2 separate regions of the Homo sapiens genome follow, and region 2 is linked to region 1. Evidence: fine-mapped expression QTL. A gene starts in region 1. The other region holds a variant in brackets. All regions are shown on one strand. Distances are from middle to middle.

Evidence for each region. PIP is the estimated chance that this variant, and not a neighbour inherited with it, causes the effect.
Region 2: its variant is the best candidate, but not a certain one, in a credible set for the expression of LEKR1 in prefrontal cortex (BrainSeq, PIP 0.86).

What each region holds. Positions count from the first base shown.
Region 1 is chr3:156,823,587-156,827,981 of GRCh38, forward strand. LEKR1 (leucine, glutamate and lysine rich 1) reads left to right here and starts at 2,767. Exons shown (of 13, transcript NM_001004316.3): 1 at 2,767-2,790. RefSeq lists an enhancer at 3,240-3,299 and a silencer at 3,614-3,908.
Region 2 is chr3:156,773,324-156,777,718 of GRCh38, forward strand. The region is part of intron 1 of LINC00886 (long intergenic non-protein coding RNA 886); the gene reads right to left. Among named protein-coding and RNA genes, the nearest start is that of LINC00886, 42 kb to the right of the region's middle. The variant C/T (reference allele first, on the strand shown) is at 2,479.

The DNA.
Region 1 (4,395 bases):
GTTAACAGCAGCTTAATTTGGCTATTACTGGATAATTTTTAAAAGTCGAAGTAAAAAGTGAAAATTAGCTCAATTAAAAACTAATGGGGTAACCCAAAACTTTATTTAATATGCCCAATGATGGGATTATTTTAAATTGTACTTCAATTCTAGTATGGACAGTAATGGGGTGGGAAGACAGAGGGAGGGCAAGTGAGAAACCTGAAAAGGGAGAGACCAAGACAAAACACCAACATAGGGCACAGGATTCGTGGCTTTTTTTTTTTTCTTAAACCTATTTTGTAACATCTTGTCACAACACTTCCTTTGCACTATCTTCTTTCAGGAATAACACTTTTTGCTGCTACGCTTTAAAAAATGTCATTCATCACAACTTAACTCTTATCCTTTGAAATTCTTACTGGGGTCTACTGCTTTCCAACTTTCTTTTTCTTTGTTTTCTTTTTTTAAGAGACAGGGTCGGGCTCTGTCACCTAGACTGGAGTGCAGTGGCCAGATCATAGACTGCAGCCTCAAATTCCTGGGCTCAAGTGATCCTCTCACCTAGGCCTTTCTGAGTAAAGACTACAGGTGTGTGTCACCACACCATGCTAATTTTTTTTTTTTTTATAGTGACAGAGTCTCACTATATTGCCCAGGCCAGTCTCAAACTCCTGGCTTCAAGAGATCCTCCTGCCTCAGCCTGCCAAAGCTCTGGGATTATAGGCATGAACCACCACGCCCAGCCCAACTTTCTATGATAATGAAAATGTTCAGTATCTATGGTGTATCATACATTACCTACATGACTACTGAGTACTTAAAATATGGCTAATGCAATATAGCAATGGAATTTTTAAACATACTTCATTTTAGTGAAATTAGTTACATGAGGCCACCTTACTGGACAGTGCAGGTCTAAGGGAAATTTACAGTGGAAAGGAAATTGGTCTCAAAGGCAATATGCAGACAAATAAACACAGATGAAATTAAACCAAGGAGTGAACTGCAGCCTTTGAGCTGGATTTTCTCCCATCCTTAAAGTGTTGCCTTTCCTTATCCTATAAACAAAGTACTCAATAAAGAAAACTAGCCTCAGAACAGAGTGATCTTGCATTAGGTGTGCAAATTCCTGTCCCAGATAGGTACCAGTTTTGGTGCCCTGTATCTAAACTTCCATTATCACAAAATGAGAGCAGTCCTACCCTCACTATCTCTCAGATAAATATGACGAGGATGAATAGCTCTGAAAGTTATTTGGGCTTCTCATAAGCATGTTATAGTTGACCACTTGGTTGACTGTCCTCTAGGCCTCTTAATCCTTTCTTCTTTGAGGGAGTGGAAACAGAAAATCAAGGGTAGGCATTGGGGCAAAAATATCAGTCAGGTTAAATGTACAAGATACATCTACTAGACTTTTTTTTTTTTTTTTTTTTTTGAGACTGAGTCTTGGTCTGTCGCCCAGGCTGGAGTGCAGTGGCATTATCTCGGCTCAGGGTAAGCTCTGCCTCCCAGGTTCACGCCATTCTCCTGCCTCAGCCTCCCGAGTAGCCCAAGTAGCTGGGACTACAGGCGCCCGCCACCACGCCCGGCTACTTTTTTGTATTTTTAGTAGAGACGGGGTTTCACCGTGTTAGCCAGGATGATCTCGATCTCCTGACCTTGTGATCTGCCCGCCTTGGCCTCCCAAAGTGCTGGAATTACAGGCCCGAGCCACCGCGCCCAGCCACATCTACTAGACTTTTTAGTGCCAAGGAACAAGGCACTAGTGTTCAGTACTTCCTGGTGTCATTAATTAGTAGTTATCAATAAGCAGTTTGGTGTACCGATACTGCTCTGCGTCATTTAATCACTTCTCTAAATCTATAGGTTCAATTAATTTTCTTTGTATTTACTTAATCTTATTTTATTCAATAGCAAACCAGTCTCTTTGCCTGCTACAGAGCCATCGATGTTTTCTTTGGTTCTTGGAAGAACTGTACTTCGACCTTATATAATCCTCAGAAAGGCAAGATCTGGACTACGAATGAGTCACCTGCTAATTACACCAATGGCTGCTCCTGCCTTGACCAGTCACAGAGTATCACCCTATCTCGGTATGCTGCTCTGCTTGTCGCGTAGTAGGTCTATAAATACTTGTTTTATGAATGAATGTATGAACAAAGGGAAGTTAGTCACGTGTAAGGGTGGGTAGCCTGCGATAAATAAAGTGTAGACTAGGAGGTCTCAAAATACTTTTTGAACTAAGCCCTTAATCTTCACTACTTTGGACTAGAATGGAAATGTCACCAACGCCTTCCCAATTAATTTGTCCTGGCTGTAATGACTGAAACCAGAACTTCCCTTTACACCCATGACCTCTACAGGCATCTCTTTTTCCTCTGCTCAAGAACAGTAACTGCTCACTGCTGTGTCTACCACATAGGCCCCAGAGCAAGGGGTGATAGGTAGGGCTATAGGCTCCCGACTCCCGACTCCCGGCAGTGCCTCTCTCCAACCCCCCACGAGGCTGGGACAGCTCCCTCCATCTCAGCAGTCGCTACCAAGCACCCGACCCACTCTCGCCCACCTCATCCCTCGATCCCCTTCCCTCCCTCTCACAGCATTCCGCGTAAGACTAGCCCAGCCTTCCGAGCCCCACCACCAGTTTTCCCACTTCCGCCCGGCGCGTGAGACCCTGGGCGGTGCAGGGGAGCGTTGACGACAGACGTGGGCCGTGACGTCGCCGCGCCCTGACGTCCAGCCGACTGGCGGCGCGGTCGCCCGGGAGACCGGGAAAGCCGTTTCACACCCGTCCTAGTCGAAGTCGAGGTGAGGGACGATGGCTTTCCTCAGCCTGGGATGACCCGGTCCTCCAAATGCAGTTCCGGAGTGGAGGCGTGCTCGCACCCGGGGAGAGAGCCAGAAAGCTGAGCCGCGGCGCCCCAGCGAGAGCACGAGGCCCCGGGTCTGGACTCCGCCACCACGCTCCTCTGCGGCCCCTTCCTGGTGTCTGCCAGCCCGCGGGGCCCAGGCGCGGTCCGCCTTCCTCCCAGCCCCGGGGAACGCGCGGCTCTGCTTCCTCACCCCCGCACCCTCCTCCTCCTCCTCTTCCGGCCACTGCAGGTCCAGGGGGAACGGGGTTAGAAAGGGACAGATTTGAAAGCCATTCCAGCAGTTTTGTCTGGCCTTGCGGTTGGTTTCTGTGTGGAAGAGCCTGCCGCTTCAGGAAAGTCTTAGGATGTGAACTCCCGCCTTCACCTGCCCCTGACCTGCTCGTTGTGGGTGATTCACGCCATGGGAATGGTTCTTTACGTAAGGGCTTGAAAGCTGAACGTGAGTTAATGGCCTGACGTGACACTAGTGTGAGAAACGGAATTGGAAACGAACAAGGACGTGTCTGCATTTTAAAAAATGTCTTTTCGGTGATCTTGTTAGAGAGGAGGTTCACAAACACCCACGTAGCTGCAGCCACTTATCACTGCACCTCTTGCCAAAGTGCGGTCCACATACGTGCAATGAGAAAGGATTAAAGGGACTTGTTTGATAACACACGCAAAACTATGTAAGACTAAATTTAAAAAATTACAGATTTTCCCTGTTGCCAAAAGGGAAAGACCCTTCTTTTTTCTTGAGAAACTTAGTATTTGTGAATGCTTCCTCTATTTAATATGTATGCAAATGTTTTTAAAGACCTAGGAATGCTTTTCTTGAGGACCTGGAAGCCATTTCTTTAAAATGTAAACATCAAGGAAGATAGGGCCCCAGTCTCCTTGTCACTTTGGGAGTTTAACCTAGGTGCGTTATTCCTAATTGTAAACACCTGTTTCGTTATGGAGCTGTGCATTACTTAGGAGGAAAGCCGTTAGCTAACACAGGTGGTTACCCCAATTACCAGATGAATTAAAGAGGAAATATAAAAGAATGTATAGAACACTATGTTAAGCCCTCTTACATGAGGACACGTTACCAGTTTCCTTGAGAATGTGTAATGGATTGTGTCTCCTTGGCTGTATAAAAGAGGGATTTCCTTCTCTCTTTGTAACCTCATTAGCAGATTAGCCGTGATGTGCATCAAAGTCTAGTTGAATGCCTAATAAAATTGTTGTCTTTCTGCATTGTGGAGCATTTTCTGGGTTGGCAGGACTTTTAATTTTTAGTTTCCCCCCGATAATCAGAACCTGCCAATTCCTCCCCTTCTTATGCTAAGGCCATAAAGTTGGAATAGATTCACAGACAATGAAGGCACTACACAAAAACTGTTCTACTGGTGCTTTGTTTATACTGTCATTTAGATCCGTGCTCTCAGATAACTTTATGGGTGAAATTTTAAAAGGATGTTTAGATGGTAATTTTTTGGAAAATTCTCCCAATAGAGTTGAAGTTACTATTTCATTTTACTGATGGCAAATCCACCATTAAATGACAGAAATGAGA
Region 2 (4,395 bases), 50 kb before region 1:
TGGCTGGCTGAATGAATATGAAACATAGGGCTGTATGAAAGCTTTTTCGTCTGATAAATTGTGGGTGAACCTGAAGGAGCAGAGGAGACAGTAATTCTTTTATTATCTGCAAACTGAGCCAGAGACATGTCAAATGGCCTAGAGTATCTTCTTCAAACTGAAGTGGATATTCTTTAACTCTAGGTTAGACAACAGCAACAATATAAAATTAAAAACAGTCTTGAGAAGTTGCAAGGAGGGGTCATTCACTTCCATTAAATTAAACTGGGCAAAATTGTCTTTTGCAGGGTGTAAGAGATTTATTTCAGAAGTTTATGTCAACAAAGAGTGCAAAATGAGTTCAAGTCAGATTCCACATAGATTTGGAAGAAGGAGAACATACAAATCATAACGAATGAAGTAGGGAAAGGTTTCCTGAGAAGTCACAGCAGTTAAATTCTTTGGGTTATTTTTTCGTTTGATCTGGAGAAGGGAATGCAAGATGACTTACACCTGCAAGGGAGTTAGGCTACGCTGTTTGTTCTTGAGACTCAGGAAAGTCAAAATCTCATTTGAGCTTAGTTGAGGTTTGAGTATTTTTTAGGACTAAAACATGTAAAGTCATGGAAATTCAGAGTTAGGGAGGTCCTTGGGGATCTTCTACTCAATTTATAGATGAGGAAACAGGTCTAGAAAGGTCTATGTCCCAAAGCTAAAAGTGAAGTTCATTTTAGGCTTACACCACTCTCCTCTTAATCTCTCTCTCTTTTTTTTTTTTAAATCTACTTCTCTCCCTTCTTCAATTTGGAAATTCTAAGCCTATTTGAAACTATGTAGTAAGAAAACACCTTAGAAAAGGATAATGGGCTGGACTTCATGTCACAGTTGGAAACACATCTCCAATTGCCAAATGAAATACAATTAGGAAAACAAAGTGCAATAGAAGAACTTACTTCTACTTAAGACAAATTTTCATGAGTGCTTCTGTTTTATGTACCAAGGTATTCCTTTATTTTCCAGAGGTTACCAAATGAAGAGAGTAAAAAGAGCTTTCATATGATTTGACGATGGTAATTTAAGTTCTATTTTAATTTCTATTCCTCAAATCTATACCCCTCCACTCCCAAAGTCAAATGCCACCTATTTGGATTCTACCTCTGTGTACTCAAAGAGAAGCTGGAGACAATGAAAGTTCAAGCATGTAGACTGGCATCTGGAATACTTGGACATTGGCATCTTGATTTGCAAGTCATTAAGGAAATATTTTAAATTATTGTAAGTCAGATTATGTCACTGGCCTTCTAAAAACATGATGGCCTCAGAAGTATCCCCTAGACTTAGGCCTGCTATCACTGACATGAACTGAGAAACATAAAAATTTTTTTTTTTGTTTAAAAATAAACCTCATGCTCTATCCTTCTTTTAAGAAAAAAAATTGTAACTCTCTTTACAACCAAACAAGCACTTGTACAAAAAGTGCTCTCTTGAATTAATTATAGTAGTGAACATTGGAAACTATCTTAATATCCAATAATAAAGTGGTGATTAAGTAAGCCATGGCATATAACCTACATAAAATACATGCAAAGATCAAAAGGGATCATTATGGAAACTGCAGCAATATGGAAATGCTTACTTAATAATTACACATTAAGTATCTACTATATTATAGAACTCTTCTGGGTGATGGAAATAAAGGAGTACTTCAAATAGCTTGCGATATGCTAGAGGAATTAGACATGAATAAGCATTTCAGGAAGAAACGATGGTGAGGACAAAGGTGTGGGGGTGTATTCTGGAAGCTCTAATCCATTCAGTATGACTGGGATGAAAGAGGTAGGAGAGAGATGGAAAGGCAGGCAGGAGCCAAATTAAAGGGGCCTTGGAATTTATTCCGTATATAAAGAGTTGCCATTTTAAGTTTAAACAGGATATAATGCATGACTAATCTATGTATACAGTTATGTTTTCCTTAATTAATTGAATACATTCATATTCATATATTCATTAATTCATTTGTTCATTTAAGTCATATATTCATTAATTCATTTAATTTAAGGATCACTTACTGAGTTTGTACTCACTTTGATGAACACAGGTGATGTAAAAATAAATAAAATACGATTTCTATCTCTGAGCCCTAACAATCTAGTGTTAGGATACTGTCATCTAAGAAAATACTAATACAGTATGATAAGCACTTCAAAGGAGCCCTCTGCAAGGTGCACAGAAACAAATGCTTTGGCAGAGAGTGAACAAAATGGCTTAGATAGTCTTAATAGAGAATGATTATAAGTCTGGAAAACAAAAAACACATTAAAAATTTCAACAAAGAGTCCAGGGGCAGTGGCTCATGCCTGTAATCCCAGCACTTTGGGAGGCCGAGGCAGGTGGATCACAAGGTCAGGAGTTCAAGACCAGCCTGACCAACATGGTGAAACCCCGTCTCTACTAAAAATACAAAAAATTAGCCAGGCGTGGTGGCGGGTGCCTGTAGTC[C/T]CAGCTACTTGGGAGGCCGAGGCAGGAGAATGGCTTGAACCCGGGAGGCAGAGCTTGCAGTGAGCTGAGATCACACCACTGCACTCCAGCCTGGGTGACAGAGCGAGACTCCGTCTCAAAAAAAAAAAATTAGCCAGGTGTGGTAGCGTGTGCCTATAATCCCAGCTACTTGGGAGGCTGAGGCAGAGAATTGCTTGAACCTGGGAGGTGGAGGTTGCAGTGAGCCAAGATTGCACCAATGTACTCCAGCCTGGGCAACAGAGCGAGACTGTCTCAAAAAAAAAAAAAAAATTCAACCAAGAAAATTTAATATAGGGAATTGGTTAACCAGGTCTGGAGAACTAAAAAGGCACAATGGGCACACTGAGGTTTCACAGAGGCAGTAACTTGAGGAAGCAGCTGCATCCCCCTAGGTCTGAGTAAGCAAAAGGAAGAGATTGGGGTTATCTGAATTTAGAAGCTTGAAGACATCCTCATAGACATAAGACTCAGACCTCAGGGAAGGGGACATTAGCTGGTAGTGCTTGTGTTTCTGAGGAAGGTGGGATGAAACCTGGTTATGAGAGTGCCAAGAAGCTGGATACTGGAAACAGCGGCTGCTGTCAGGATGAAGGGTCATTAGTGGGTAACATGGACAGGAACAGCAAGCAAATAGAAAGGAACGAGTCCCTTCATCCTCTCTTGCCTCATGGTCTTTCTTTAGTGTCCCACACAGACAGAAACCAAAAGGAATTCTGCTGGCAAAAGAGAAAGGTGGTTTGCATAGTCCCAACCCCAGCATCACAAAACAAGGTAGACAAAGGTGGGTTTGGAGATGACAGAAAATAGCTTAATCTCTAGCACAAGAGTTTAAAATCTTTTAAAGTGAGGAGGCTGGCTTAAGGAAGGGCATTTCAGGCAGAAGGGAACCACATGTGCAAAGACATGATGCCATCCAAGTGCTTGGTGCTCTTGGGAATTACATGTACTGAAAGCAGTTGTAGCTGGAATACGAAATAAATTGGGGAACTATCGAGAAGTACAATTGAAACTATAGAAAGGGACCTTGTGTTCTGAGGGGCAGGGAATTCCATGTTAAGAGGAAAGCAGGATAATATTTTTAAAAATCTCATTGTATTTTTCCTTTTCAGTAATTTCAGGAGTTTTTTCAACCTTACAGCCATTAAAAACAGATAGATTCTGAGGCTTTTTATCATAGAAAAGCAAAGTACTATATTTGATACAGCATAGAACAAAGAGGTCATTGCTTAGATTTTTGAATTTCAAAACAGTTTTTTAAGTCTCTAGGGATACAAAATATCCCAAGGGCAAGCTCTTTTGGCTTGCAGAAGTCTGACTTTTTGAGACAGAAAGATTGATTCAAACTCCAAAGTTTTATCAAGAGGAGAAATGAAAACCAAAGTTTATTCTCAGTATCCAGAGTAGGGATACACAGGATAGGATATAAGGTAAGTTTCTTTCTCACAGGACAAAAGAAAAGCCTTCAGCAGCTGAGGAGGAACCAACCACAATGTAAAATTCTAGTGTTGTCACTGTGTTCATTTCTGCACTCCACCTCTGGGCTAAACCTGGTTGGGTTGAAGGAGTGTGTATAAGGATGTGAAAACATCCTAAGACATTTAGCAAGAAATCCCAGAACAAAAAGTGTATTCCTCAATCCCCCAGCTGCAGCCTGTTCGAAATACCTGCTCCTCAGAGAAGCCCTGTGTTGACATGGTGTCACAATGGTACCTTAAGATGGGTATAGGTAGTGGATCACAAGACAACATACGCATTTTAGAATCAGTCTGCTGATTTTAAATGAATATCCTATTTGGATTTTTACTAGAATTGCATTGAATCCATTCAATCTCAACCCACTTCATTCTGGCTTCAGTTGCCAGGATGCCACTGAAATTGATCTTGTCAAAATCACCA